Linked DNA regions of Homo sapiens. The protein of the gene in region 5 purifies or fractionates together with the protein of the main gene of each other region. This does not show direct contact. Each region holds a gene or a part of one and is shown on either strand. Other genes may lie near its edges.

Region 1 (5,511 bases), on a different chromosome or scaffold from region 5:
CATTTTGGTGAGATATAATTATTTCATTATATATTAATAATAATAGAAATAAAGTGCACAATGAATGTAATATACTTGAATCATCCTGGAACCATCCCCCACCTCAGGTTCCTGGAAAAATTATCTTCCACAAAACCAGTCCCTGGTGCCAGCATGGTTGGGGACACCTGGTTAACAGATGTGAGACCCCTTTGCCTTGTCTTGGAATAATGTGCAGATATGCATTGTGTGAATGACATCTGATGGCGCCATCTTGCCCTGTACATCATTTTAGGGACAGCTCCAGTATTTCATGAAAATTAAAATTTCTTCTAGTGACGAACAAAATGATACTCAGAAGCAATTTTGTGAAGAACAGAACACTGGAATATTACACGATGAGATTCTGATTCATGAAGAAAAGCAGATAGAAGTGGTTGAAAAAATGAATTCTGAGGTATTTTCTTTAGTTATTTTCAAATGTTTTTATATGTGTGTATATTTTAAAGAACTGTATTTTGGAAATATAAAGGATTTTTAAGTCATATATATGTGTGTATATATTCTATATATCCTTTGTCATATATCTATATACGTACGTATAGGATAAAGCCATGTTCTTAATTCACCTTCATTTGCCTGCAACAGTTGAGTAGTGACTTGCACAATGGCCTCAATCCAAAGGAGAAGTATTTGATGTTTTTCATAAGAATTGACGATCTTTCCACATCAGAAATAAGTTTTGCTACTGAAAACAGATTTTCTCATTTTTGGACATTAGTTTTTTAAAAAATGTTAATAGAGAAGTCAATTGATTATTTTTACTGATAAGAAAGTAGGAAATGTATAGCTGGGTCAGAGGCCACATTGTGGATACCATTATCCTTACTTTTGCAGAGAGGAACAGTTTGCTCCAAGTAGTTTCTCATTTCAGTGTAAAGAGGTTTGAAAACAATGACATGCCATGATACACATTTAGTAATAATTTATTGATAAGTATTTTGTTTCTGGAGAAATAGTTCAGTATATTTCCCCTATTTCACCATTACTACTGTTTCAAACATTATAAAGAGGAAATAAAAGTTACCGCAATGGCAAATAATCTCATGATTTCTAAGAAAATCTCTATAAGTTGTATCTTATTTACCATTCATATTTTGAAACAAAAGGTTTCTTTTGTATTTATATATTTACACCACAGAAGTAAGTGTGGTTTTGTGGAGGATCACTAGAAGTAGCATCAGCAGACCTGGGGAAAATCCTGCATCTGTGTATATTTTTTGACCTCTCCTTTTAAGAATCGCGATCTTAAATGAGTTCAGTGTTATATGTAGAAGTGGAATGCCTAGATACAGATGTGTACAGTGTAGAAGGGTACAGTGCTTAGATTTGACAGTTATAAATAAATGTAATTCTTATAACTGAGTATAGAAATATTAGAAATGTAGAATATCGGTAAAATGTTCTTCAGTAAAAGAACTTTAAGAACTTTGAGAAATTGCTTCTGTCCAAATATATGCATAGCTAAGGCTCTTAGGATGGTGTGGTTGATAGGTTAGATATCAGAGTGTAAACCTAATCTTAAAAATGTAGTCAAATTGTTAATCTTATATTTTATGCCTCTGGGTTTTTTGTAACTCAGAAAAAGGCTTTTTTAATTCTGGGATTCTTAAAAATCCTCTAGTGATTTATTTTTCATCGTCTTTAAATAAATATTTAAACTTTTAGGAATTTAGGAGCAGATTCCTAAAAGTTTAAATATTTATTTAAAGGCGATGAAAAATAAATCACTGGAGGAATTTACACTCTTATTAGGTTTGAAGTTTTGTCCAATTTTTTTCCAGTTAAATATCCACTATGGGGATTCTTTCATTATACAAATACATGTTATTTTTGAATTTCAGAAGAAATAATGATATGTCAATCTATTGAGTGCTAACTAAAAGTTCTCTTTGTTTACTTAGCTTTCTCTTAGTTGTAAGAAAGAAAAAGACTTCTTGCATGAAAATAGTACGTTGCGGGAAGAAATTGCCATGCTAAGACTGGAGCTAGACACAATGAAACATCAGAGCCAGCTAAGAAAAAAGAAATATTTGGAGGATATTGAAAGTGTGAAAAAAAAGAATGATAATCTTTTAAAGGCTCTACAATTGAATGAGCTCACCATGGATGATGATACCGCCGTGCTCGTCATTGACAACGGCTCTGGCATGTGCAAGGCCGGCTTTGCGGGCGACGATGCCCCCCGGGCTGTCTTCCCTTCCATCGTGGGGCGCCCCAGGCAGCAGGGCATGATGGGGGGCATGCATCAGAAAGAGTCCTATGTGGGCAAGGAGGCCCAGAGCAAGAGAGGCATCCTGACCCTGAAGTACCCCATGGAACACGGCATCATCACCAACTGGGATGACATGGAGAAGATCTGGCACCACACCTTCTACAACGAGCTGCGTGTGGCCCCTGAGGAGCACCCCATCCTGCTGACCGAGGCCCCCCTGAACCCCAAGGCCAACCGCGAGAAGATGACCCAGATCATGTTTGAGACCTTCAACACCCCAGCCATGTACGTGGCCATCCAGGCCATGCTGTCCCTGTACACCTCTGGCCGTACTACTGGCATCGTGATGGACTCTGGTGACGGGGTCACCCACACTGTGCCCATCTATGATGGGAATGCCCTCCCCCATGCCACCCTGCGCCTAGACCTGGCTGGGCGGGAACTGACTGACTACCTCATGAAGATCCTCACCGAGCGTGGCTATAGGTTCACCACCATGGCCGAGCGGGAAATCGTGCGTGACATCAAAGAGAAGCTGTGCTATGTTGCCCTGGACTTCGAGCAGGAGATGGCCATGGCGGCCTCCAGCTCCTCCCTAGAGAAGAGCTACGAGCTGCCCGATGGCCAGGTCATCACCATCGGCAACGAGTGGTTCCGCTGCCCCGAGGCGCTCTTCCAGCCTTGCTTCCTGGGCATGGAATCCTGTGGCATCCATGAAACTACCTTCAACTCCATCATGAAGTCTGATGTGGACATCCGCAAAGACCTGTACACCAACACAGTGCTGTCTGGCGGCACCACCATGTACCCTGGCATGGCCCACAGAATGCAGAAGGAGATCGCTGCCCTGGCGCCTAGCATGTTGAAGATCAGGATCATTGCTCCTCCCAAGCGCAAGTACTCCGTGTGGGTCGGTGGCTCCATCCTGGCCTCGCTGTCCACCTTCCAGCAGATGTGGATCAGCAAGCAGGAGTATGATGAGTCAGGCCCCTCCATTGTCCACCGCAAATGCTTCTAGGTGGACTCTGACTTAGTTGCGTTACACCCTTTCTTGACAAAACCAAACTTCTCAGAAAACAACATGAGATTGGCATGGCTTTATTTGTTTTCTTGTTTCATTTTTTGTTTTGTTTTTTATTGGCTTGACTCAGGATTTAAAAACCGGAATGGTGAAGGTGACAGCAGTCGGTTGGAGGAAGCTTCCTCCAAAGTTCTACAATGTGGCCAAGGACTTTGATTGTACATTGTTCTTCTTTTCAATAGTCATTCCAAATATTGTGAGACGCATTGTTTCAGGAAGCCCCTTGCCCTGCTAAAAGCCACCCCACTTCTCTCTAAGGAGAATGGCCCAGTCCTCTCCCTAGTTCACACAGGGGAGGTGATAGCATTGCTTTTGTGCAGATTACATAATGCAAAATTTTTTGAATCTTCGCCTTAATACTTTTTAATTTTGTTTTATTTTGAATGATCAGCCTTCGTGGCCCCCCTCTTTTGTACCCCAACTTGGGGTGTATGAAGGCTTTTGGTCTCCCTGAGAGTGGCTGGAGGCAGCCAGGGCTTACCTGTACTCTGACTTGAGGAGAGTTGGATAAAAGTGCACACCTTAAAAAAAATTGAGGAAGCACAGTATTTCAGTACAGTGGACAGCTTAGCATGTTGACAACTGAGAATAAAATGCTCAGTTCTGAACTGGACAATGTAAGACACAACGAGGAAACACCGGAAATGGAAATTCAATTACGTCATTGTAGACTGGCTGCTGCTCTACATGATTGTGACCAAAGTCAGATAGCTGAAAGAGACTTCTTTCCAGAGAACAAGACATGAACAGGTTTATTTACAGAAGACAATGAATTCTCATTTATCTCACCTAAAAGAGAACAGATTCTTTCTCAACAAGTCTAACGTAGACAGTAAAATCAACAGGCTAAAAATTAAGCTCCATGAAACAAGATAAAACTCTGAGAGAAAAGACGGGGCAGGCCGCCATCTTTCCCGTTCAGGCAACTTAGTCATTCCAGCCTGCGGGCTTTGGAGAGTACAAACCGACGAGGGACAGAAGAGATCCCACAGCACAGCATAGCTGCTTTACCAAATCATGGCCAGACTGCTTCTGTAAGCAGGCCCCTGATCCTGTTCCATCTCACTGGACAGGACCTCCCAACTGGGGCCTCCAGCTACCCCCACCAGCATTCCTTGGCCAATGGAAATGTGAAATGTTCCTGGGACAGAGCTCCCGGAGAGGGGCAGGCCCCCACCTTTGCTCTTTCGGTGACTAGCCATTCTGGCCTGCGGGCTTTGGAGAGCCCAAGCTGACAAGGGGTGGAAGAGGTACCTCAGCACAGCACAGCCACGCTACCAAAACGTGGCCAGACTCTTGTTTACGTCAGTCCCTGACCACATTTCTAGTCAGTGGGTGAAGTCTTTCAACCAGGGTCTCTGGCTACCTTGACTGCTGTTCTCTGGCCGACAGAGGTCTCAGGCCTCCCTGAGTCAGAGCTCCCAGGGGGAGGACCAGATTGTCATCTTTGCTGTTGGGGCGACCCAGGCATTTCAGCCTTAGGGCTTCAGAGTGTCTGAGGCGGACCAGGGGCTGAAGTGAACCCCCAGCACAGCACAGCTGCTCTATAAAAACGTGGCCAGACTTTTCTTTTTGAAGCAAGTCCCTGTTCTTGTTCGTCCTGACTAGGTAAGACTTCTCAACTTGCCTCCAGCCACATCTTATAGGTGTGTTCAGATTGGCAACAGGTTCGTACCTCAGTGGTACAGAGCTTCCAGAGGAAGGGGCAGACTATCATCTTCCCTGGAAAATACAAGGCAATTAGGGACTGGAGGGGACCCCCAGCATACCACAGCAGCCCTACAGAAAAGTGGCCAGGCTCTCTACTTGATGGGCAGATCCTCCTGGCCTGGGTCTCTAGCCAGCCCACCACTGGAGCTATCAAGCCAGTAGCAACTCTGCAGTTCCTGGGACAGAGCTTCCAGGAGCAAATGAAATCCTTTCTGCCACTGCCTCTGCAGTGGAACTGCCCTTGCTGCCCTCAGAAGATGCAAGGGAGCAAAGACCCTAAGTGCCCTATCAACACCTCCAATAAGCTGCAGTTGACCCAAAGAACAAGCCAGTCCATCTCCCACGGGTACCACACACCCTCCACTACTCATCACCAGACAGGGAACCCTGGCTTGGGCCCACAGCACAGACCCTCCATCCTGGGCTGATTACACTAAGTGATTGCTAACTCACATGTCTCTGGGAT
Region 2 (6,324 bases), on a different chromosome or scaffold from region 5:
CGGGGCGGCTGGCCGGGCGGGGGGCTGACCCCCCCACCTCCCTCCCGGACGGGGCGGCTGGCCGGGCGGGGGGCTGACCCCCCACCTCCCTCCCGGACGGGGCGGCTGGCCGGGCGGGGGGCTGACACCCCACCTTCCTCCCGGACGGGGGCTGGCCCCCCCACCTCCCTCCCAGACGGGGTGGCTGGCCGGGCGGGGGGCTGACCCCCACCTCCCTCCCGGATGGGGTGGCTGGCCTGGCGGGGGCTGACCCCCACCTCCCTCCCGGATGGGGTGGCTGCCGGGCGGAGGGTCTCCTCACTTCTCAGATGGGGCGGCCGGGCAGAGGCGCTCCTCACATCCCAGACGGGGCGGCGGGGCAGAGGTGCTCCCCACATCTCAGACGATGGGCGGCCGGGCAGAGACTCCCCTCACTTCCTAGATGGGATGGCGGCCGGGAAGAGGTGCTCCTCACTTCCTAGATGGGATGGCGGCCGGGCAGAGACGCTCCTCACTTTCCAGACTGGGCAGCCAGGCAGAGGGGCTCCTCACGTCCCAGACGATGGGGGGCCAGGCAGAGGCTGCAATCTCGGCACTTTGGGAGGCCAAGGCAGGCGGCTGGGAGGTGGAGGTTGTAGCGAGCCTCGATCACGCCACTGCACTCCAGCCTGTGCACCATTGAGCACTGAGTGAACCAGACTCCGTCTGCAAACCCGGCACCTCGGGAGGCCGAGGCTGGCAGATCACTCGCGGTTAGGAGCTGCAGACCAGCCCGGCCAACACAGCGAAACCCCGTCTCCACCAAAAAAGTACGAAAACCAGTCAGGCGTGGCGGCATGCGCCTGTAATCGCAGGCACTCGGCAGGCTGAGGCAGGAGAATCAGGCAGGGAGGTTGCAGTGAGCCGAGATGGCAGCAGTACAGTCCAGCTTCGGCTCGGCATCAGAGGGAGACCGTGGGGAGAGGGGGACCGTGGGGAGAGGGAGAGGAGGGAGAGGGAGAGGGCTGGTTGTGTGTTTTTAATGTAGTGGTTGGGGAAGGCTTCACTGGGTAGAAGACATTTTAGCAAACATCTGAAGGAGGTGAGGGTGTGAGCCTTTCAGATCCCTGGGAGAAGAGCGTAAGGAACAGCAAGTGCACAGATCCAGAGACCAGAATGAGGAGCAAAATAAGCAAAGGAGAGTGCTGTCAAAGTGGTGATAAAGGACAGATAATGTAGTGCCATGCAGGCCATTCTGAGGGGTTTAGCTTTTTTTTTTTTTTTTCGTTACAGAATCTCACTCTGTCGCCCAGACTTTAGTGCAGTGGCGCGATCTCGGCTCACTGCAACCTCCACCTCCCGGGTTCAGGCGATTCTCCTGCCTTGGCCTCCCGAGTAACTGGGATTACAGGCACCCGCCGCCACGCTCAGCTAATTTTTTTGTATTTTTAGTAGAGACGAGGTTTCACCATGTTGGCCAGGCTGGCCTCGAACATCTGACCTTGTGAATCACCCGCCTCGGCCTCCCAAAATGCTGGGGTTACAGGCGTGAGCCACCGCGCCAGGCTTTTTTTTTTTTTTTTTTTTTTTTTTTGAGACAGAGTCTCGCTTTGTTGCTCATTCTGGAGTGCAGTGGCGCAATCTCCGCCTCCCAGATTCAAGCCATTCTCGTGCCTCAGCCTCCCAAGTAACTGGGATTATAGGCCCATGCCACCATGCCCGGCTGATTTTTGTATTTTTAGTAGACACGGGGTTTCGCCGTGTTGGCCAGGCTGGTCTGGAACTCCTGACCCCAAGTGATCCCTCCCAAAGTGCTGAGATTACAGGCGTGAGCCGCCATGCCTGGTTGGAGGGCTTTGGCTTTTATTAAGTGAACCGTGAAGCCACAGCTAGATTTCGCGTTGAGATTCAACTTCAAAGGATCACTTTGGTTGCTGTGTTGAGAAGAAACTGTAGGGGGCCCAAAACAGAATCAGGAAAACTGGTTAAGAAGCTATTATAATAATCCATGGGAAGGATAGCAGTTTGGATCAGGTAGTATTATTACTGATGATGAGCAGTGGTCCCTAGAAGGCCCTTGGGATTTACTGAGAAGTTGGATATGGAGAATAAAGAGTCAAGCTGGACCCCACGTTTTTGGCTTAGCAGTTATAAAGATACTTATTACTGCTCATGAATGGGAAAGACTGGGAAGAAAGGGATGCAAGGGATTCTAGGGGTATAAGGGAGAGGTTAGAATGGTAGACCATGGAGTGTAAACTGGATATGGAGGAAGTGAAGTCATGGGGAGTGAGAGACAGTGAAAAGGTGGTTGGATCATTGACTTGTGGGTCCTGTTGGGGTTGAAGAATTATTGGAATTGGGTAATAGAAGGAGTGAGATGCAAAGATAGGAGGTGGTGCTTAGAGAGTAAAATGGATGAAACTGAGATGAGGAGGTCCGATGTATTGATAATGACAATAGGGCCCTGTCTGATAGAAAAACAGTGTAAGGCACAAATGTAATCTTAGGCTTTCTAGAAGGTGCAGTGATAAAAATGGGCTGGGTCCGGTGGCTCACGCCTGTAATCCCAACACTTTAGGAGGCCAAGGCAGGTGGATCACCTGAGGTCAGGATTTCAAGACCAGCCTGGCCAACATAATGAAACCCCGTCTCTACTAAAAATACAAAAAAATTAACTAGGCATGGTGGCAGACACCTGTAATCCCAGCTACTCGGGAGGCTGAGGCAGGAGAATCGCTTGAACCGGGGAGGCGGAGGTTGCAGTGAGCTGAGGTGGCACCACTGCACTCCAGCCTGAGTGACAGAGCGAGACTCCCATCTCAAAAAAAAAAAAAAAAAAAAGAATTTACTCAAAGAGAATAAAAAGAATCCAGGACTGTAGACAAACTTCTAAAATATTTTATAGTTTCTTCAAAATTAAGTGGTTCAACTGGCATGGCATAGTACTAATTAAAGGTGAACTACAGTAGCCAATTGGACTAGAATGAAGCACAGAATGCGAGCTTTTGAAGGGATTTTGGAAGCAGCAGGTTCTACCTCCTAAATATCACTGTGAATCATCTTTGTCCTTATCCTGAAGAGAGGTAGTAAATACAAGGTAGTGGGTAAGAGTGTTGACTTTGGAATTGGGAAAGCCTGGGTTTTATTTTAGTTACATCTCTGCAGCTTCTTAACGGTGAGCACTTAGCCTCTTTAAACCTCAGTTTCCTAATCAGTGAAATGGGATCATTATGAGGTGAAGCCGAGCACTTAGCATGTAGAAAGCGCTCAGAGTGATGTCAGAGTCTGTCTTGTTTCCTCCTACATATCATCACCAAAAATTTGTTTCATGAACATGCATTTGACCGTGTGACTCTGAGTTAAAAGCTCAGCTTTCTCCCCACCTGTAGAAACTTTTTAGGATGACTTTATATATCCTTTGGTGATCTGGCCATCGGCTCTTTTGGTCCTTACCTCCTGCAGCTCACTCCTACCTCCCCGAGATGGGGAGATGAATAGGACTCCATGCCTGGGGTGTTTAACTTGCTGATCCTTCTGCCCTTTCAAGACTCAGTTCAAATGTCACCTCTGTGACAATGCCACACTCTTCACATGCTCCTTTCTCTGGACTAGAGCAATTTGTGCATCTCGTTCATTTTCCTCTGCTAGACTTTGAATTCTGAGATCATTGATTCATCTATCTCTAGCACCTAACATATTATTTTTAAAAAAAGAATTATTGATTACTACGGTCTAACTTTTTTTTTTTTTTGAGACAGAGTCTCATTCTGTCGCCCAGGCTGGAGTGCAGTGGGGCAATCCTGGCTCACTGCAACCTCTCCCTCCCTGGTTTGAACGATTCTATATCTCAGCCACCTGAGTAGCTGGGATTAAAGCCACTATGCTTGGCTAATTTTTTTTTGTATTTTTAGTAGAGATGGGGTTTTGCCATGTTGGCCAGGCTGGTTTTGAACTCCTGGCCTCAAGTGATCCCCCCAGCCTTTAGCCTCCCAGAGTGCTGGGATTACAGGCGTGAGCCACCATGTGTGGCCTACTATAGGCTAACTTTAAAATAACACATTTCATACTGTAAATAAGGGGGAAATTCTGTTTACCTTGTCTGGAATGTTCATGTGTGTATCTGACATGCCTCGCACTCCCATGCCCAGCCCCAAGCTGAAAAGCACCTTCGCCTTCTAGAATCAGCTTAGATCTTTCTGGGAACCTTTCCTGATTTTTTTTTTTTTTTTCCTGAGACAGAAAAAGGGCTGGAATGCAGTGGTACAATCATGACTCACTGCAGCCTCAGTCTTCTGGGCTCAAGTGATCCTCCCACCTCAGCCTGTGAGTAGCTGGGACTACAGGCATGAGCTGCCATCACACCCAGCTAATTTTTAAATTTTTGTCATTTTTGTAGAGATGAGGTTTCACCATGTTGCCTCAGCTGGTCTGGAACTCTTGGACTCAAGCGATCCACCTGCCTCAGCCTCCCAGTGTGCTGGGATTACAAGTGTGAGCTACAGTGCCTGGCCAGCACAGATTTTTATATACTTGATATGCTAATGAAGTAAATGAAGTGGTCCCATCACTATTTTTTTTAAGGTTCTTGTTATGTCAGTAGCTTTATAATCTTGTAATCTTCCAGGAAGAAGGCCAAATGTTGCTAAAGGCAAAGTGGCAGAAACACTGTACTTATATTTTTAACCTTGTTCTTTTACTAGAATTAACTTAGAATGTATCTGTTTTACAAATTTTTCTAACAGAAATATGCCTGCTACCTAGGGAAATATTATATATGTTTTAAACATTAATTTAAAAACTTGAACTTTGAATTCCTTTTCTTTTAGCTTGGGATGTGGTAATGCCAGCCACACTCCTCAGAGCCGTGGCCAGATCTCATCATATATTATCAAAAGCACATCAGTGCCGAAGAATCGGTCATCTAATGTTAAAACCACTTAAGGAATTTGAAAATACAACATGCAGCACACTGACAATACGTCAAAGCTTGGATTTGTTCCTTCCTGATAAAACAGCTAGTGGTTTGAATAAGTCTCAGATCCTGGAAATGAACCAAAAAAAGTCAGATACCAGCATGCTGTCTCCATTAAATGCTGCTCGTTGCCAAGATGAAAAGGCACACCTTCCAACCATGAAATCCTTTGGTACTCACAGGAGAGTGACCCACAAACCAAATCTGTTGGGTTCTAAATGGTTTATAAAAATATTAAAGAGGCATTTCTCATCTGTATCAACGGAAACATTTGTTCCAAAACAAGACTTCCCACAGGTGAAGAGACCACTAAAAGCATCCAGGACCAGACAGCCATCCAGGACCAACCTTCCAGTTCTGTCTGTGAACGAGGTAAAGTAGGGGTGGCCGTGGCTCTCGTGCTTAGTGATCATTGCTCATGCTAAACCAGTGTGCGTTGCACCCCAGCCTTACCGCCAACGTAAGAGAACTAGCAGTCACTCAGACTTCTTCATCAAGGTCTTTGAAGCCTAATAAATATCCAAAGGGATTCAGAATCTTAATTTTTAACAATTAATGATACATATAAAAACAAAATACAGGTGATAACACATGAAAATAGAGTTTATAAAAGATTTGGTTATTGGTCTAAGGAAACTGAAAAAGAGGACCAATATTAAGTCCAGTCTAAGAATGGGACTGTAAAAAAAAATAAAATAAAAAAAAACAAACTAGAAATTCTTCATCAAGTTAAAAAAAATTGTAACTCTGCAGACAGATAAGCCTTTATTAGGCTGTGGCAGTTGCATGGGGCGGTGAAATGACACGGTAGGGTGGACTCCAAAAGCAGCAGGAGAGGAGGGCCCAGCTTTTTTATCCTCTTAAGGTTTAAGGGGGTATTTTTTATTCATCCTTAAGGGGTTTCTGGGAATTTTTCTGCTACAATTTGCATTTCTCCTTCAGTAACAACTTAAGGGTCAAGATCAAGCCCTTGATAACCTTTGTATCTTGCATAATACCTAGAACTGTACCTTGTACTTAAATGTTTATAAGAGGATCTTTAATGCCGATAGTCATCAACTTTAAAGATATTTTAAACTTGATGAAGACTTCTGAATCTATCAGAAAACAGGTTAGAATGTCTGTCTTCAAGTCTTGATTCTGAAAAGTAGCCCCTGAGCCTGTTTCATTTTGGCTGTGTTTTTATTACTGTGCAGCTGACACCCCTTGGAAAGGTATACATACATACCTTTACTCATCCTCTGATTCTGAATCTAGCAATGAATGAATGGTTTTTGTGTTGGATTCTGGAATGCTTTCAATTCTTGTGTGGTTACTCTGAACTCAGGACGTGAAGGATGAAGTGTTGTGCAGCTACTGTTTCCCCTTTCCTTTTGCTGGAGCTTTGGGGT
Region 3 (6,324 bases), on a different chromosome or scaffold from region 5:
CAGGGTCAGGTCTGTGCGACCTCAAGGTATCAGCTGCCCTCTCTGAAGTGTGGGCTGGTTTGCCTCCCTGAAGGGCAAGGTGAGAGACGCGCTTCAGTGGGGTCTACCTTCTCTGCTGGCCCCACCCCAGAAAGGCCCAAATCTCACGACCAGGTGTGAGGCTGCAGGCCTGGCTTATCCCAGCCAGGAGCGCCTTCTGCTTGTGCCGACCTCTGAGAATACTACAGCCAGTGCCAGACGTCAGCTCCTCTTAAAACACCACTGCTTCCCAAACCTCAGGGAGTCAGTGTGTGGAGAGGGAGGGTCCCTAGCCTCCAAATGAAAAATGTAGAAAAATCCCCAGCCCTCAGCTACACTGAGCCGCAATGACACAGAGGAGCTAGGCAAAGAGGTAACAGTCACCCCAAAGAGAAGAGGGCTGAAGGGCCAGAGAACTGGATTAGTGACCAAAAAGTGGGACAGGAAAGCCCCACAAGGCAGCATCAGGCTCCGATCACATACACATGTCCCCTGACACTGGCACTCAAGGAACCCAGGGGGTTGTTGGAGGCTTCTGCCAATAGAGCCTTGGGCCAACACTGCGAGCAGCAGGAGGGTTTGTGACTTGCTCTGGATTGCATGACCTCCGAGAGACAACCTGGTTCCTGGCTCCAAGGGCAACACTCTTAGCCAGCCTCACACAATGTCACTGATCTGGCATTTTGCATAGTTACATATCCCACAAATCTGTCTCCCATAAAATCTACGAATCCATCTCCCAGCATTACACATTGATCTTGTCTAGCTCAGTCACCTTAGACAAGTTCCTTAATGTCCCTGACACTATTTCCTTGTCTGAAAAATGGGGATGATAGTAAGCACCTGCCTCTTGGTTTTGTTGTACAGATGACATATGAGAACCCAGGCCTGGTGTGGTACCTCGCACACAGTAAAGGCTGAGTACAGGCAGCTGTGTCTCCTGCTGTCATTCCTGAGGGGCTCCCTGGCCCTCTGCCCCCCGGGGGGATTCTCATTAGGTCACTTCTTAAAGCCTCCTGAGACAAGGCATTCAGTGCCCATCCTCCCTGCTCACTATGCTTGGCACCCACTTCCCCCAGTGTGCTCACCACCATGTGGGGAAACAGTCAATTCCATGGTGCTGTGTCTGTCTTCCCAGGTGTGGCCCCTCTGCCGCCCCAACCAGCTCACCTCGGCTGCCCTCCGGCGGGTGCCCTCCCCACTCTCGGCCTCCTCATGCTCTTTGGCGCCCTGGGTGAGGTTGGTGTAGCTGACGAGCTTTCCCAGAAGAGACGATACCTTTGGGCGGATGTCCAGCTCTTCCTGCAAACAGAGCCACAGGGCAAGATGGCATTGGGCCAGGTGGGTGCCAGCTGTGTGGAGCCAGCTGCCTGGTCCCTGGCCCTGTTCCAAGCCCTGAGACAGGCCTGGGCCTGATCCCAGTTCCTACCTGGGGAAGTCCAAGCCATCCAACTGGACAGGTGTGCACACCACACCCCAGCACGTGGCACTCAAAGGCCCAGCCCCGCGGCTGCTTCTCTCTACCCCGCCTTGGCTACAATCACTGCCAGCCCATTTGTGAAAACCACCTGCCTCAGGGGAGAGAGGGCAGGGAAGAACACGGCTGGCAGGGGGGCAATGGCATACTTCATCCTGCCTGCTCTGCCCAGCCACCTCCTGGCTATGGCTGCACCTCTAGGACTCACGCCTACCCTCCCCACAAAAAAGCCACTCTAGTCACCTCAGGGAACCAAAGAGGGCAAAAGAGTGATGTCTGGGACAAGTGAAGTCTCCCTTGTCTGCCCAAACCCTGATCTCCCTGGATGGTCTTCCCCTGACCCCAGTCCTGCAAGTACCCACATCAATCGCGGAGATGGGATCCTGATCCTCCAGCCCATCCTCAGGCGGGGCTGGGCCAAGGCCTTCACCGCAGAACCTTGCTGCTTTCCCAGGTCAGGAGGCCTCCCAGAGCTCAGGTCCCCCAGCCCCACCGGGGTCTAGGCGATGATCCCTGCTCCTGCAGCCTTCTCGAGGCTGTGCTTCTACCTGCCTCCTGCCCACATTTAGCTTTTCCCTCTCTGTCAGCTCCTTTCTGACCTACACACAGGGAGAAGTTGCTTTGGTGTGAGAAAGGAAGACGAGGGCCCTTGGGGGCATGTGGAGATTAAGGAGCCTCGGCCAGATGTGGTGGCTCACAGCAGTAATTCCAGCACTTTGAGAGGCTGAGCAGGAGGATCACTAGAAGTCAGGAGTTCAAGACCAGCCTGGCCAACACGGTGAAACCCCGTCTCTAAAAACACAAAAATTAGCCAGGCATGTGGTGGGCACCTGTAATCCCAGCTACTCGGGAGGCTGAGGCAGGAGAATCGCTGAGCTTGGAAGGCAGAGGTTGCAATGAGCTGAGATCGCGTCACTGCACTCCAGCCTGGGGCGACAGAGTGAGACTCCATCTCAAAATGAAGAAAGAGAAAAAAAAGGCAGATTAAGGAGTCTCCATTACTCAGCCATGCAGTGGCTGAATGCATGGGTCAGAGTTTAGGAGCTTAAACTACGTCTTAAATCCAGATCTCACTGCTCAGCTTGAGTCTGAAGAAGATAAAACTCAAGTACAGAGGCAGATATTTGGGAATCTTTCCAGAGACGTATCCCCTAAAGCTGCAAATGGACCAGGACTCAGGGAACTAGAGAGGGACAGAGCTGGAAGGGTCAACCAAGAAAGACAAGGAAGAATCCATGGGAGAGCGAAGAACCATGGACTTGGAGAAGAACCAGGAGTGGAAGGAAGAGGAGAAATCCTGAGTTGGGAAATCCTAAGCGGGCGTTTCCTTGCTGAGGGGTTGTAAGGAAGTCAGAGGTGAACCACCCTGGAGGTAGCAATGGGGGTGGGATTGTGAGTGGCCTCTGGAAAGGCAGTTTCAGTTGAAAGGGCCAAGGGAACTGCAGCCCGGCTGCCATGAGAACCAGGAACACAAGAGGAGATGAGAGGAAGAGCAAGACAGAGGAGGCCCACGTGTCCAGCCTGCCTGCTTAGCTAAAGCCTCTGTGTGCCAAACCTGTGGCCCAAAATGGCTCCTCAGCTACCTCAAACAGTGCCAGGTTCCTGTCATAGTAGTCAATTCCTCTGGAAGCCTCCAAGGGGGAAAGAAAAGGGCTGCTCTCTCTGTGGTTGCCATGTCCTGTGAAGAGAGAGGGACAATCAGGGCCTGCTTCCTGAGCCCCCCAGCCTGGGCCCCTTCCCAGAAAGCCAGTCCCCAAATCATTTCTGTGGAGCACTTTGGAGCTGCAGTGTCACCAGGTTGCAACTCAGTTTTCACATGGCACCGTGCCAATGCTCTTGAAGGCCCAGGGATAGCCAGAGAGAGGCCAGTGACCAAAACCTGGGACATCATTCCCTCCAGTGAAGGGAATCCAGGTGAGGGCGCAGGCGCCCTAGCACAAGCACGTATGGACACTGAGGGACGGGGCCTGCAGAGGGGCGGGGCCAGCGTTTGACCCGCCCCCAGATCGCCTCCACGCCCCAGTCCCTTTCCCGGTCTTTCCGGAGTACCCAATGTGCAGGATGCCAAGGGTTCGGTGTCCTCAGGGACCGCCCAGGCAGTGCCCTCCAGATAGACGAAGCCGCACACAGCACCTTCGGCTGCCATGGCCCAAAGGTGGCCGGCTGGCTACCCCACCATGCACTGCGCGGGGGGCGTCCTGCAGGGCAGCCCGGGGCATGCCGGGAGGTGGGGCAAGCCCCAGGCCGTGGAGAGCGGAAGTGGATTCCAGGAGCCTTCTAGGGTTGCCTAAGAAAGTCGGACGGGTGGGTGTCGGACTGAGCAGGGAGAAAAATGGGAGCTGGGACTGCTGGCAGGAGCAACACAATGGCCCCCTTGCCCGCAGATCCCGCCGCTTGCCCCAGGCAAACCTCCGCCTACAGCCCTAGGCTGATGAGCCAGTGCCCCAGCTCTGAGAAATCTCGCCAAAAGGAGTGAAATGCTCCTTTTCAATAAGCCTGCCTCAACTCCCAAAGCTCGACTGTTTTTTCTGGCCTCCTATCATTCATTCTTCCCTGTTTTCCAACTCTTGTCCCTTATGAGTCTCGGTGGGTGCCATTCCCAGCTTCCCACCAAGCAGAACGCCAAGCACTCGTTTTCTAGGTGCTGAGTGTTCCCTCCACCCCAGCTACCCTCGCAGCCCCGGCCCTGGCTCAAGGCCTCACAGCAAATGGAAAGCACACATCTTGGTGTTGGATGGCAGCAGTATGTAGTTCTGACATGAGAAGGACTGGCATGGTGTCCAGTGATGGAGATGGCAACAGAACTGTCACCACCAGCCCAGGCTAGTGGTGTGATTGGGCCATGCACTGGCCATGCCCGCCAACCTTTTCTGTTTACATAGGCCACAATTCATTTTTCTTGACTGCAGCTGAGAATGCTGATTGAGGCATCCTCCTGTATCTGATACATCTCTTGCTATCAGCATGAGGCTTCAATTGCTTTCTCTGAGCCAACAACCACTCAGCAGGTGCTGTGCTGTGGATTCTTTATCCCCCAAGGAAACTAACAAATCAAGTGTGCCCATGACAGTTTCTGGGGCAAAGTCAGTTCTTCCTTCCCACAGCATGTGAAAGTGGCACACCTGCTACACCCAGCAACCTGGACTAGCTAAGTGAGCCAAGCAGCTCAGCCCCACATTCACATAGGTCAATGCCAATGGCACAGTGGACAAAGGCAGCCAGAGGTCAAGACAGTCCACCGTGTCATGTTAAAGCCAGGCGGGGTCATGTCGGACACTCTATGATATCTGCTGTACCCTCCATGCTTGTTCAGGATCAGAAGGAGTCCCAAGAAAAATCTGAAAACCCAGTAACACTCTGCCTCTTACATTAATGACATTAATGGCTCTTCAGTGAAAAGCCTTTGAAAATTACTTTTGGATTTTTGTGACAAAAAAAGTGTCTCCCTTTGATAAATCAGGTGCTTCATTTTGTCAGAAAATGCCAGTTATACAGCTCGTCTTACTTCTCTTTCTGCTTTGGCTGCCAGGAATCTCCAAGCTAAATTTACTCTTTAGATAAAGTCACCATCTGTCTCACCTGAGTGCTTGCCCCCTTCCTCTGCATGGTTTTCAATCTTCCTGAGAGTAACAATCACTTGGGGAGACACTTTTGTTGGCTATTTCTTCTGATTCTTTTGTGGAAGTAGGCTGGAAATCAATTATAATTTATTCTAAACTCATGTACTACAGCCTGCCCCATCACTGTTGCCTGGTCTTTCTGGGTAGACTGTATTGCTATCCAGAAAATATACAGCTGAGCACACAGCAGCTCCCCACAAATGCCTGTAAATGGTCCTCTAAGACCTAGCCTATCCCTTGTCCCTTCAGCTATCACTCTAGGATGGCTCGGGGCCCTTCCAAAAGTTGTCTCTAGTTCTCACAGCAACATTCCAGTAGAGAGCATTTACTACCTTTTAGGGACAAGGAGAGTGAAGCTCAAAGATGTTCAGAGGCAAGGTCACCCAGGGAGAAGGCCACATCTGGGTCCCAGGGTCCATCAGAGCCCTGTAGGGGCGGAGCTGCAGGTTCCGTTCCTACTACAGACTCCAGTCCATCTATGCAGCACAATCTTTAAAAATAGAGAAGAGTGCTGCAATTTGGCCAGGGTACGCATACCTAGGCCTCTGGGCATTCAGACTGCGGCAGACTGGCTTGGATTCCCAGACCTTCCCCCGTGTGACCCAGGGAGACATGCTTACTCCCTGTGCGGCCTTGGTTTCCTCTTCTATGAAGTGGAGATTGTAACACTTGTTTTTCCAACTGCCCAGATGCACTAGAAAAGGGACAGTTAGTGCCAGACGCCCAGTGGGCACTCCTCGGAGTTCCCCCAAAGCTCCCAAGGGCTTGTGGGAATGTAAGGGTCTAAGTAGTGCCTGGATGTCTGTACTGCCCTCGGCTTCAGACCTCCTGTTCTGGCCTCAGCCATTCCAAAAATTCCAGGGCAGGTCTGGACATGCCTGCCAGGCTGAAGCTGCTCAGACACCACCTGAGATCCCCAGTAAATCTGAATATGGCCTAGGCCTAGGGACTGCCTGTGAGCTACACAACTGTGTTCCCACCAGCAACTGTGACTGCACCAGTGGCAGGTGGGGATCCAGGTGACCCTCCTGATCCCTGTGTACACGGACATCTGCCTGAGGTGCCCCCTCCAGCACCTCCCTACCCCCTGCCCACAGGCCAAGGTGGGCTGGATGAGCAAGCCCATCTAGGCCTCCCAGAGCAGAGGTGTGGGCACTGAACTGGGGAAGGGGCAGGAGATAGATCTGAGGCTCACTGTGCTTTGTGCCC
Region 4 (6,324 bases), on a different chromosome or scaffold from region 5:
AAGGAACCACAGACTCACATGTGAAAATAAAGAGAGTAAGGCAGAACCCCTGCCTCACATCCTGCATGGTTTGGTACTGCTTAGCTTTCATAAGGGGCGTGCCTTTCCTCCGAAATAATATTGTTCAGGCCAGACATGGTGGCTCACACCTGTAAACCCAGCACTTCGGGAGGCCAAGGAAGGAGGATCACTTGAGGCCAAGAGTTCAAGACCAGCCTGGGCAACTGAGCAAGACCCCATTTCTACAAAAGTGAAAAAAAAAAAAAAAAGCTGGGGCAGGCGCGGTGGCTCACTCCTGTAATCCCAGCACTTTGGGAGGCTGAGGTCGGGAGTTCGACACCACCTTGGCCAATTTGGAGAAATCTCATCTCTACTAAAACTACAAAATTAGCTGGGCATGGTGGTGCATGCCCGTAATCCCAGCTACTTGGGAGGCTGAGGCAGGAGAATCGCTTGAACCCCAGGAGGCGGAGGTTGCAGGAGAATCGCTTGAACCCAGGAGGCGGAGGTTGCAGTGAGCCAATATCACACCATTACACTCCAGCGTGGGCAACAAGAGGGAAACTCCATCTCAAAAAAAAAAAAAGTAGTTGGGTATGGTGGCGTGCGCCTATAGTCCCAGCTACTCAGGATCAGAGAATTCTTCTGGCCTTTTGTTAAAATGTTGGATGCAGTGGTGTGCTAAGAGGAAGAAGCATCTCCAGGCTCAAAACTGTAACTGTTGTCTTTCCAGGGTACCGATGAAGCGAGACAAGTGTTAGAGTGTCTCACCGCAGTGGCACTAGGCCTTTAAGGTAAAGGAAAGGAGAATAAAGACTAGGAATGATCTAATAACAGCTGCCTTGTTTCCATTTTACAGTTTTTTGCGAGTATGTTGACCTATCCCTTTGTGCTTGTCTCCAATCTTATGGCTGTCAACAACTGTGGGTAAGCACTTTGTATTTCTTATTCTAGTAGGTGGTTGACTGTATGCTGACAGGCGGAGCAGCCTTGTAGAAATTTAGGAAAGATGAATGATCAGTATCAATCTCTGATTGGTATTTTTTTAAAAAGGGGGGGAGGAAAAGTATAATTGATACCATTAGAAGATTCCTAATTTTTTTCTTTGTATGCCCTATGCAGCAGCAGCCTCAATTTGTATTTATTTATTAATTATTATTATTATTTTTTTTTTTTTTGAGATGGAGTCTTGCTATGTTGCCCAGGCTGGAGTGCAGTAGCATGATCTCGGCTCACTGCGACCTCCACCTCCTGGATTCAAGTGATTGTCCCGCCTCAGCCTCCTGAGTAGCTGGGATTACAGGCATTCGCCACCATGCCCAGCTAATATTTTTGTATTTTTGGTAGAGACAGGGTTTCACCATGTTGGCCAGGCTGGTCTCGAACTCCTGACCTCAAGTGATCCACCCGCCTCAGTCTCCCAAAGTGCTGGGATTACAGGCATGAACCACCATGCCAGGCCAATTACTATTATTATTTATAGTTTTTGTTTTTGTTTTTGTTTTTGTTTTTTGAGACAGAATCTCACTCTGTCACCCAGGCTGGAGTGCAGTGGTGCAGTCTCGCTCCATTGCAACAGACACCTCCTGGATTCAAGCAGTTCTCATGCCTCAGCTTCCCAAGAAGTTGTGATTACAGGCATGTGCCACCATGCTGGGCTAATTTTTGCATTTTTAGTAGAGATGGGGTCTTGCTATGTTGGCCAGACTGGTCCTGAACTCCTGACCTCCGGTGATCTGCCTACCTCGGACTTCCAAAGCGCTGGAATTAAAGGCGTGAGCCACTGCACCTGGCCTATTTTTATTTATTTTTAATTTTTTTAGAGATAGGGCTGCAATGTGGTGGTGAAGTCCTAGCTCACTGCAGCCTTGAACTCCTGAGCTCAAGGGATCCTCCCATCTCAGCTTCCCAAGTAGTTGGGAGTACATGTGCATGCCACCATGCCTGGCTAATTATTTTTTGTGAAGACACAGGGTCTCACTTTGTTGCCCAGGCTGTTCTTAAATTTCTAGGCTCAAGTGATTCTCCTTCCTCAGCCTCTTAAAGTGCTGGGATTACAGGGGTGAGCCACCATGCCCAGCCAACATATTGTTATTTTAAATCTTTATCTTTTCTATGAAAGTGACAAAAGGTATATCAGGGATTAAATGACAATCCATACCTGTTTTTCCTAGGGGCTTTATGGAGAAAGTGAGTTTTAAAGAACCAGAATTAGGATATTTAGTCTATGGAAAGTTTGATGACCTTTTCTCTGTATTGGTTAGAAGGGCAGGTTTTGGTATAGTGGTAGACTCCATTGATTTCCAAATTCTAGATGCCAAGTGACTCTACTGAGTTGGGCAAAATTTTGCCTTTTTTTTTTTTTTTTTGAGATGGAGTCTCACTCTGTTGCCCAGGCTATAGTGCAGTGGTGCAATCTCGACTCACTGCAACCTCCACCTCCCAGGTTCAAGCAATTCTCCTGCCTCAGCCTCCTGAGTAGCTGGGATTACAGGTGCCCACCAGCATGCCTGGCTAATTTTTTGTATTTTTTTGTTGTTGTTATTGTTGAGACAGAGTCTTGCTCTGTTGCTCAGGCTGGATTGTGGTGGCGCGATCTTGGTTCACTGCATCCTCCACCTCCTGGGTTCAAGTACTTCTCCTGCCTCAGCCTCCAGAGTAGCTGGGATTATAGGCACTTGCCACCACCCCCGGCTAATTTCTGTATTTCTAGTAGAGACAGTGTTTCACCATGTTGGCCAGGCTGGTCTCGAACTCCTGACCTCAAGTGGTCCACCCTCCTCGACCTCCTAAAGTGCTGGGATTACAGGCGTGAGCCACTGCACCCAGCCTTGCCTTTTTTGTTTAATTCAAAATTCTTTTCCCATATGGTACCTGACATATCATTAAACATGTTACTGTTTTCAAATAAGATCAGATAGCTATGTGGAGTTTTGAACATTTTACATTGTTTGTTTTCTGGTTTTGTTTGTTTCATGTTACTCCTGGCAAGCTGTGATGTTTTCTGATACGTAGAGCAACTGCCATTTTTTAGCACAGTGTAAACTTGAAGGATGAATTAAATGTATTATTATTATTTACAGTTTTTTCAAGATGAAGTGATTATACCTAAGTAGGAACATATATATCTACTGTTTATATCCGTTTTCATGTTTAGTATCTTTGTGAACACCAGTTAGTTTTTAAATCTCCTTTCCCTGCTCTTTTTTTTTTTTTTTTTTTTTAAAAAAAGACTGGTTCTTACTCTGTCACCCAGGCTGGAGTGCAGTAGTGCAATCTTGGCTCACTGCAACTTCCGCCTCCTGGGTTGAAGCAATTCACATGCCTTAGCCTCCCAAGTAGCCGGGATTACAGGCATGCGCCACCATGCCAGCTCATGTTTTTGTATTTTCAGTAGAGATGGGGTTTCACCATGTTGGCCAGGCTGGTCTTGAACTCCTGACCTCAAATGATCCACCTGCCTTGGCCTCCCAAAGTGCTGGAATTACAGGTGTGAGCCACCGTGCCCGGCCACCTTTCCCTGCTCTTTAATCATGTAAATGCTGTGTTCTGGAGTTTCATTTGTCCACAAAGGAAAAGTCTAAATGTTTTAGAAATTAAGGTTGAAGTTTATGTTTATTTATTTATTTGAAACCTAAATATAGGGGAGGAATTCTCTTTTGGATGCTTGATCGTTCCCCTGCTTCAATATGATTTGTTTCATTGAACTAAAATGATCTCTCAGGGAATCTTCTGTGCAGCAGAATATTTTGACAAGGTTTATCAACGTCTCAAGAGAATGGTTAATATTAACATGAATAGCTCCATGTTTTTTTCTATTTTAGTCTTGCTGGTGGATGCCCTCCTTACTCCCCAATATATACGTCTTGGATAGACTGTTGGTGCATGCTACAAAAAGAGGTATTTCTTTTTCTCTGTCTCTCTCATTTTATTTTGTTTTATTTTTATTTATTTGTTTTCTTAAATATTGTCTCTGGAATCCCAAGTTAACTCTTGTAGCTCACTTTAGCTAGAGTTAGTCTAGTCTGCCAGTTAATGTACACTTTACAGTGTTCTGTGTTTTCACTTTGGCATAATAGTAAAATGTGATGTTTAGAAATCATGAGCAGGAGTAATGAAGAAGAAAGAATCCCTAGATGAGACCTAGAAGCCATTTGAGTGCCCACATTCAACTTACAAATACGATCCAGGTAGATTATTATCCTGGTAAAATGATGGCCTTGATTTTAGACTCTTTTTTTCCCCCAAACTCACCTTTCATAACCACTTATTTGTCACAGTGGTATTGACAGAGCTGGTCTTATACTTCTAGAGTCTTGTTAGTGGATGATTTTGCCTAGATACCAATTTAGGGTTTGTTATTACTATGAGGTGTATAATCTGCAACAAAAAATTATTTATTATCTAGGCAAAGCTTTATTGGAAAATAAAATAATGGGCTGGGTGCAGTGGCTCACGCTTATAATTCTAGCACTTCGAGAGGTCTAGGTGGGCAAATTGCTTGAGCCTAGGAGTTTGAGACCAGTTGAGGCAACATGATGAGACCTCATTGCTACAGAAAATACAAAAACTTAGCCAGGCATAGCACCTATAGTCCCAGCTACCCAGGAGGCTAAGGTGGGAGGATCACCTGAGCCCAGGAGGTCAAGGCTGCAGTGAGCCAAGATTGCATCACCGCACTTCAGCCTGGGTGACAGAGTGAGACCCTGTATCCAAAAAAGGAAAATAAAATAACGGCTAGGTATGGTGGCTCATGCCTATAGTTCCAGTTACTCAGGAGGCTGAGCCAGGAGGATCACATGAGTCCAGGAGTTTGAGGCCAGCCTGGGCAACACAGCCAGACGTGTCTCTTAACAAAAAACTACAGGCCAGGTGCAGTGGCTCACAGGTGTAATCCCAGCACTTTGGGAGGCCAAGGCGGGCAGATCACTTGAGGTCAGGAGTTTGAGACCAGCCTGGGCAACGCAGTGAAACCCCATCTCTACTAAAATACAAAAGAAATTAGCTGGGCGTAGCAGCGTGTGCCTGTAGTCCCAGCTACTGGGGAGGCTGAGGGAAGAGAATTGCTTTAACCCAGGAGGTGGAGGTTGCAGTGAGCCAAGATTGTGCCACTGCACTCCAGCCTGGGTGACAGAGCAAGACTCCATCTCAAAAAAAAAAAAAAGACAATAACAACAACAAATGGATTGGCTGTGGGCTAAATTTAGCACAGGATCACTTAAAATGATTATCAGTTTAAAGCTGTTTTTGAAGGGGGGTCCACTTCTTAAAAGATTGTAGAAGAAAGCGTATAAAGAAGCTCTTTGTTGCATTATTTTATAGCACTAGTGATATATAAGAGAAAGGCCTTTGAAATCTGAATGAAAAGGCCTAAGTGTTGTTTGTAGTTGCTCTTGCTTAGTGTGCCCACAAAGCCCCTCTGTGAATCCAAGCTTGAATACTTGAATGATTTCAGTACAGACCTACTATGAACATTGTGCATTTCATTCTGAGTTTTACTCTCTATTGTACAGTGTGGTCCCTGTTTAAATGGAAAAAATGGCCTTTCCTTCCTTCCTTTTCTGACTAACACTCTGTTATAGGAAGAAAGCAGACAGAGAATGGATTACGGTGTCAAACACACTTAAAGTAGGAACAGTTGTTCCTGTAGGTGCTTACAACAACAGCAAATCTTGATTGGGCATTTACTGTATACCAGATATCATGCTAAGAGCTTTTCTTACATCAGCTCATGTAATCCTCAAAACAGCTGTGTGAGAATAGGTGTCATTCTTAATCACCCATTTCACATATGAAGAAACTGGGGCTTAGAGCAGTTTAGTGCCAATTACATAATGCAAGGTCACATGGCCTATATTTGGGAAGGCTCAGATTTATACTCCAGAGTGTACTCAGTTGCACTCAGAACATTATTACTTTATTTTTATTTACTTATTTGGTTCTTTATTTTTTAGAGACAAGCTCTGTCGCCCAGGCTGGTGTGCAGTGGTGGCATCACAACTCACTGTAGCCTCAAACTCCTGGGGTAAAGCAATCCTCCTACCTCAGCCTCCCAAGTAGCTAGGACTACAGGCATGCTTCCACCATGTCCTGTTAATTTTTTTGTTTTGTTTTGTTTTTGAGACAGGGTCTCACTCTGTCACCCAGGCTGGAGTGCAGTGGCATGGTATTGGCTCACTGCAACCTCTGCCTCCTGGCTGAGGTCTCTGGCTCAAGTGATCGTCCCACCTCAGCATCCCAGGTAGCTTGGACTACAGGCACATACCGCTAAGCCCAGCTCATTTTTTTGTTTTTTGTTTTTTGTTTTTTTTAATTTTATTATTA
Region 5 (6,324 bases):
CTGGGGATGCCACGTGGGCTTTTGGGGCGCCTCAGTCCCACCTGCTGCTGTGGCTTCTGTTGCCCTCCCCCGTGCCCTGGGTGCTGGAGGAGGAAATAGGAGAGGGGAGTGGCTGCTCAGAAATGCTGTGGACCTTCTTGCTACCTGATGCTTCATCAGAGCAGACATTCGGGTTGGTTGTGGCTTTTCCTCTCTGACCCTGGTACAGAACACAGGCTTATGTGGGAGGAATTCTGGAGAAGAAGCAAACAAAACAAAACTGGGCACTTGATCCGAGTTTGAATGAGGGGAGGGGCTAGTCACCAGGGGAGGGGACCTTCTGTGATGGGCCACAGAGGTCCCCACACTCTGGTTCTCGAGCAGGTGAGGAGGAGGCACTCTGCTTCCCTTCCACAGGTCATCGTGGAGATGACCTGTCCTCACCTAGGCAGAGCTGGGCTGTCACTGCCTGCTGCAGGCTGAGCAATGTGATTCCTAAAGTGTCAGTGATTTATTTGTGCTTGGTTCAGCAACAGAGTTAGAGTTAGATAGTTTCTGGAACGTAGAATAAACAGAGTTTTTGTTTTGTTTTGTTATTGTTGTGTGGGAAGAAGTTTTACGATATACTATTAGAAATGGAGAAAGGCACACTCAAAATTATATCTTGGAAATTATTGCTGCGCACACTGATTTTCAATTAAAATATCCAGTGAGAGTATTTTAGGCAGCTGTTCCTATAAACTAACCAGCTACAGGGTAAAGCTTATTAAGTAGGCAGATATGAGTTAATGGTAGGAATTTGGCCAATAATATCATCTCTGAGCCATAGTGAGTGGTTGTAACAGCCTTGCCACCGGGTCACAGTCCCTTTCTCTGCCATGCAGAAGCCGTCTGACCCATCAGAGGGTCCTGCTTCCATGCTGGGGTCTCCGTGCTCCCACTCCCAGCTGAAGCTGGAGTTTCGCTTTTGTAATGCTGCAACTCTGTCTGGGCTAAGTTTGCTGCAGTAAAAAAATAACCCCTAAAATCTCAGTGGCTTAAAACAACAAAGTCCTATTTTGCATTCACGTGACACATCCACTGTGGGTTCACAGAAGACATTGGCTCACTGTGCTGACACAGGGCCCCAGGCTGACGGAGCAGCCGACATGCCAGAGGAAAAGGAGTGGGAAGTTCTAGTGGGTCCTGCTTTGACAATGAAATGCTCTGGCCCAGAGATGACACATGTCACCTCTGTTCATAAATCACTGGCCAACTCTGCTTGCATGGTCCTACACAGCCACAGGGGGCCAGGAAGTGCAATTCTATTATGCATGTGTCTGGAAGAAGAAGGAACCAAGAATCCTTGGTGATTTCTAAACATGAATGATCATCGCAGCCACCTGCTTCCTAGCCATGTGACCCTCAGCAGCATCTTGTCTTGATCCTTGGGGCACAGCTGCCGAGGTAGTGGGTACTATGGAGCAGGAGGGTCAGGAGGAGATGTGGGTGGGGAAATGGAGTCCCTTGTCCCTTCCCTGATGCAGAGAACTTGGAGGTGCTCTTCTAGCAAGGAGGAGAAAGTGAAAAGACTGTGATCTTTCAAAAACCAATTGGCCTCTCCGAACACACACTCAATAAATACTCGCTGAATGAATAAATACTCGCTGAATGCATGAAGAAGTATGTACTGTGGAGTTGGGTTTGAATTTCATCACAGCTCTACCACTTATCATCTGAGTGATCCTGGTCAGCTTGTTTAAACTCTGTGAGCCTCAGTTTTCCCATCCATAAAAAGGGGCTTATAATGCCTGCTTATATCTCTGGGTTATAGTAAAGATCTAACGAAGAAATAAGTACATATGTTTAAACAATATTTATTGAGCCCCTATTTTGTACATACAGGTGTTTTGTCAACCCAAAATCACTTAAGAATGAAAATACTTATCATTACTTCCCTATCTGGAAACTGTGGTGGAGAAAGCACACTCCTTATATTTCTCAAAGAGTAACACTTTGAGATCCTTGGAAGAAAAGTGTTATACAAATTAATCATGCTTTAATTTCCATAGGAACCTGCTCATTTGGATTAATTGATTCATAATTGGGTTCAATTATGAAATAATGTAATTCCAAATGTGATGTGAAGAAAAATAAAACCTAGAAAACTTTTGTGGATTTTTTTTTTTACTTTTTCTTTTCTTTCTTTTCTTTCTCTTTCTTTCTTTCTTTCTTTCTTTCTTTCTTTCTTTCTTTCTTTTTCTGTTCTTTTCTTTTTTTTTTTTTGACAGGGTTTCACTCTGATGTAGCCTAGGCTGGAGTGTAGTGGCACGATCTTGGCTCACTGTAACCTCTGCCTTCCAGGTTCAGTGGATCCTCCTGCCTCAGCCTCCTAAGTAGCTAGGACTACAGGCATGTGCCACCGTGCCTGACTAATTTTTCTATTTTTAATGGAGATGAGGTTTTGCCATGTTGCTCAGGCTGGTCTCGCACTCCTGGGCTCAAGCAATCGTCCTGCCTTGGCCTCCCAACATGCTGGGATTACAGGCATGAGTCACCATGCCAGCCTTTTTTCTTTCTAAAGATGCCAAACCCTTTGTTCTGGGAATAAGGTAATAAAACCCCATTATGAATCCCCATGCCAGGCCACAATGTGGTTAGCCCACAGGTGGAAACATGGTGTTGGGTTTTTAGGGCACAATGTGTGATTGTTTTTCTTACCACAACAGGAAGAGGTTATGAGGTATGTGCTACTCTTGGTTCCTAACTGAAGTGTGAAAGTGGGAATCCAGAGTGCTTTCAGTTGCTCCAACTTTGGTTATATGTATTAGAAACAAACTTCTGAGATAGAGTTGCCAGATTAAATACAGGACCTCCAGTTAAATTTGAATTTCAGATGCCTATGAATAGTTTTCAGTATAAGTATGTCCCATGCAATACTTGGGATACGATTGTGCTGAAGTGGTTTTCATTGTTTGTCTGAACTTCAAATTTAACTGGACATCCTGTATTTTTATTTGCTGTCTTGCAACTTGGTTCTGAGAGAGAGACCCGAGTTCTTCCCATTCACACTGTGTGTTGGGCAGGGCATTTGGGCCACTTGATGTTGGCTAGGTAGGTTCTCATCTTGAGAAACCAAATTTCTGATTCCCAGCTCTGTGCCGGTACTGTGCCTTTTTCCACTCAAGATCTTAAAACTTTGCCTAGGAAGAGAAGGGTCGGGAAATGGTGGGATGGGGGCTTGAGTGTTAATTTCTGAGTCTTCTTCCTGGGGTGGATTGCTTCTGTGCCATGGTCTTTGTTTCCCGTTGTAGGTGCTGACCCCATATGCTGTCTCGACTGCAATGACAAAGTATCTAAATACAAATGTGATAACCAAGACTGCTGATGAGTTTGTCAAAGAGTCATTGAATTATGTCACAATTGGAGGTGAAACCTGTGGCTGCCTTGCCCATGAAATCTTGGTAATTGATAACTTCTCCTTTTCTTGAAGCCAGGGAGGGAGGACACGCAGGTGGCCCTGGCAGGGCTGGGCTAGCTCTTCCTTGCTGCTGGAGCACTCATTGATGCGTTAATATAGCCAGGTACAAGGACTATGTGGCGAGGTGGAGAGAAGCCGGAGCCTGGGAGCTCAGCCACTAGATAACCCCGAAGTTGGCAAGTCTCATTCTTGGCTGCCTCCCTCCTCCCCTCAGAAAGTAAGGTGGCTCCCAGGAGCTGTTGGGCAGGGAAGACCAAGATATATGGCGCTTCCACGTGGGGGCTGCTGTCTTCTCTTGACCCTCTATTCCAGTCAATGTTTAGCTATCAGCCCTCCAGGCAAAAAAACAAAACAAGCACAAACCACTTTGATGTGTAGCATTTGACTTCCACGGTATAAATACTTCCAGCATGGCTGAGTTTAAGCCACGGACATGACGCTGTGTGCATGAATTGAGGAGTGCATGGTGCACAGAGGGCTCTTTTTTTAGTTTTCATTTTTATTTTACTTTAAGTTCCAGGATGCATGTGCAAAACGTGCAGGTTTGTTACATAGGTATACATGTGCCATGGTGGTTTGCTGCACCTATCAACCCGTCATCTAGGTTTTAAGCCCTGCTTGCACTAGGTATTTGTCCTAATGCTCTCTCTCCCCTTGCCCCCCACCCCCCGACAGGCCCCGGTGTGTGATGTTCCCCTCCCTGTGTCCATGTGTTCTCATTGTTCAACTCCCACTTATGAGTGAGAACATGTGGTGTTTGGTTTTCTGTGTCTGTGTTAGTTTGCTGAGAATGATCGCAGTGGGCTCTTATGAGTGAGTGCAAGCCAGCTCCAGCATGCCACAGATCCAGCATATGGCAGAAGAGGCTCTTACCACTCCTGGACTGCTTTTAAAAACAAACACAAACATGAAACAAAGGTAGACTTGAGTATTGCTCACTAATACTGAAGCAAACATAACATTGGCATAGCTCTGACTCCAGTCCCACCAAAGAAAGTTAGATGGGGTTTCCTCACTTACCCATCATCTGCCAATTTCCTCCTCTGTCTCATTGGCTTTTCTACTGCAGGAATTGGATCTCTCTCTGTCTTTCATGGATGGTAGAAGGATTCATGGCTCCATGCGCTAAAGTCTACCAAAGCATTCCTTTATCTGCTGGGACTTAAAGACTCTGGCAAGAGATATTGAACTTTCTCAATTACTTGCTATTTTTATGTAGAACCTCAACAATGTGCATAATCACCAATGTAACTCACACTACAAAGCAGACATGCAGAGAGGATATAAAGTCTTTATTTTTTCTGTTGCTGATCTGGTCTTTTTCCAGATCACCACTTGCTGCAGGAAAATTCATCGAATGTCCAATGAGTCTAAACTGAGTTTGATCTAGTCATCTCAACTGGCCATTTAGGAAATGTACTCTTAGTCTGTTATTTAGGGAGAAATGTTCATCCTTCCCTGGAGGCTCCCTTCTTCCTGCCCCTCTCACTAGGTGGCGCTGGGAGAGGATGCCCTGTGGTCCATGACGGTCCTTCCATGTGTGTGGGCTGGTGTCCTGGGTGGCTGTTCACCTTGCTGAAGTTTATGTCTGTCAAGGATGAGGGAGATGAACCTTTCTGTCCTTTTGACTTGGCCAGTGGATACCCTGATAAGGTCTCCCCAGCTACTGAGGGCAGCAGACTGCTGTACTCTGCCACATCCCCCTCCAGCTACAGGCCCAAGGTCCATCTGCAGCTTTGATCCACATAGACCTCTGGCTGCTATCTCTACATCAGCACCAACGTGGACCTGAAGGAAGCTGGAAAAACCAAATCTCAGCACCTGTCTCACCATGCTGAGATAATTTCCTGTGGTTGGACTGCAGAGGAGTGGGGGCCATGGCCCCTTCTTTGCCCTCAGTGCCACCCTTACTCATGAATCACACTTCTCCATCCTTCATGCGCCAGGCCTTATCCTTCAGCCCCCAGCCTAGGCCAGAGCTCACACCCGACAGAGGACACACTTCTGACCACGCCTTTCTCTTTCTCTCCTCCCACTTCCCACTATCTCCAGGAAAGAAAAATTACAGATCTTTTTTTTTTGAGATGGAGTCTCGCTGTTGCCCGGGCTGGAGTGCAGTGGTGCGATCTTGGCTCACTGCCGCCTCCACCTCCCAGGTTCCAGCGATTCTCCTGCCTCAGCCTTCTGAGTAGCTGGGATTACAGGTGCTCTCTGCCACAACTGGCTAATTTTTGTATTTTTAGTGGAGACAGGGTTTCACCATGTTGGCCAGGTTGGTCTCCAACTCTTGGCCTCAGGTGATCTGCCTGCCTTGACCTCCCAAAGTGCTGGGATTACAGGCGTGAGCCACCACACCCAGCCAAAACTACAGATTTCTTGTGCACTTTCTCGGTGTCACAGCTTAGCCCTCTCCAGTGGGGATGGCATCCCTTCCACCTTCAGGAGGACACTGTGACCTTAGTCCTCCAGGATGCTGATGGCTTAAACAGAACTCATCAGCATCTGAAAAATGTTTCCTTGTAGAAAAATAAACATTTTATTTTTATAAAAATGGAATAAAATTTTATTTTATCTTGACACAGGGTCAAAGTTGAATATTTTATTTAATTTTGACATAGCCATGTTGCCCAGGCTGGAGTGCAGTGCAGGATCACAACTCACCGCAGCCTCTTTGAACTCCTGGGCTCAAGATTTCCTCCCACCTCAGCCTCCGCAGTAGCTGGGACTATAGGCACATGCCACTACATCCAGCTAATGTTTTAATTTTTTTTTTGGTAGAGACTGGGGCTCACTTTGTTGCCCAGACTGGTCTTGAACTCCTGGGCTCCAGCTATCCTCCCGCTTTGGCCTCCCAAAGTGCTAGGATTACAGGTGTGAGCCACTGT

What was found.
Region 1: the proteins of HSD17B3 (region 5) and POTEI purify together in Homo sapiens (affinity purification with mass spectrometry; 2 studies listed by BioGRID and IntAct, with this or other methods). This does not show direct contact.
Region 2: the proteins of HSD17B3 (region 5) and RMND1 purify together in Homo sapiens (affinity purification with mass spectrometry; one large-scale study listed by BioGRID and IntAct). This does not show direct contact.
Region 3: the proteins of HSD17B3 (region 5) and SLC12A4 purify together in Homo sapiens (affinity purification with mass spectrometry; one large-scale study listed by BioGRID and IntAct). This does not show direct contact.
Region 4: the proteins of HSD17B3 (region 5) and MTCH2 purify together in Homo sapiens (affinity purification with mass spectrometry; one large-scale study listed by BioGRID and IntAct). This does not show direct contact.

The regions. Positions count from the first base shown.
Region 1 is NC_000002.12:130,460,577-130,466,087, reverse strand, and holds part of POTEI (POTE ankyrin domain family member I), read left to right. Parts: intron 1-315; coding exon 316-436; intron 437-1,943; coding exon 1,944-3,272; 3' UTR 3,273-5,511.
Region 2 is NC_000006.12:151,444,289-151,450,612, reverse strand, and holds part of RMND1 (required for meiotic nuclear division protein 1 homolog), read left to right. Parts: intron 1-4,787; 5' UTR 4,788-4,801; coding exon 4,802-5,305; intron 5,306-6,324. UniProt on the Homo sapiens protein: Required for mitochondrial translation, possibly by coordinating the assembly or maintenance of the mitochondrial ribosome.
Region 3 is NC_000016.10:67,960,387-67,966,710, forward strand, and holds part of SLC12A4 (solute carrier family 12 member 4), read right to left. Parts: intron 3,667-6,324; exon of another isoform or gene 3,642-3,666; coding exon of another isoform or gene 3,545-3,641; intron 3,174-3,544; coding exon 3,079-3,173; intron 1,321-3,078; coding exon 1,189-1,320; intron 1-1,188. UniProt on the Homo sapiens protein: Mediates electroneutral potassium-chloride cotransport when activated by cell swelling. May contribute to cell volume homeostasis in single cells. May be involved in the regulation of basolateral Cl(-) exit in NaCl absorbing epithelia.
Region 4 is NC_000011.10:47,620,277-47,626,600, reverse strand, and holds part of MTCH2 (mitochondrial carrier homolog 2), read left to right. Parts: intron 1-859; coding exon 860-927; intron 928-3,824; coding exon 3,825-3,900; intron 3,901-6,324. UniProt on the Homo sapiens protein: Protein insertase that mediates insertion of transmembrane proteins into the mitochondrial outer membrane. Catalyzes insertion of proteins with alpha-helical transmembrane regions, such as signal-anchored, tail-anchored and multi-pass membrane proteins.
Region 5 is NC_000009.12:96,237,856-96,244,179, reverse strand, and holds part of HSD17B3 (17-beta-hydroxysteroid dehydrogenase type 3), read left to right. Parts: intron 1-3,272; coding exon 3,273-3,422; intron 3,423-6,324. UniProt on the Homo sapiens protein: Catalyzes the conversion of 17-oxosteroids to 17beta-hydroxysteroids. Favors the reduction of androstenedione to testosterone. Testosterone is the key androgen driving male development and function. Uses NADPH while the two other EDH17B enzymes use NADH.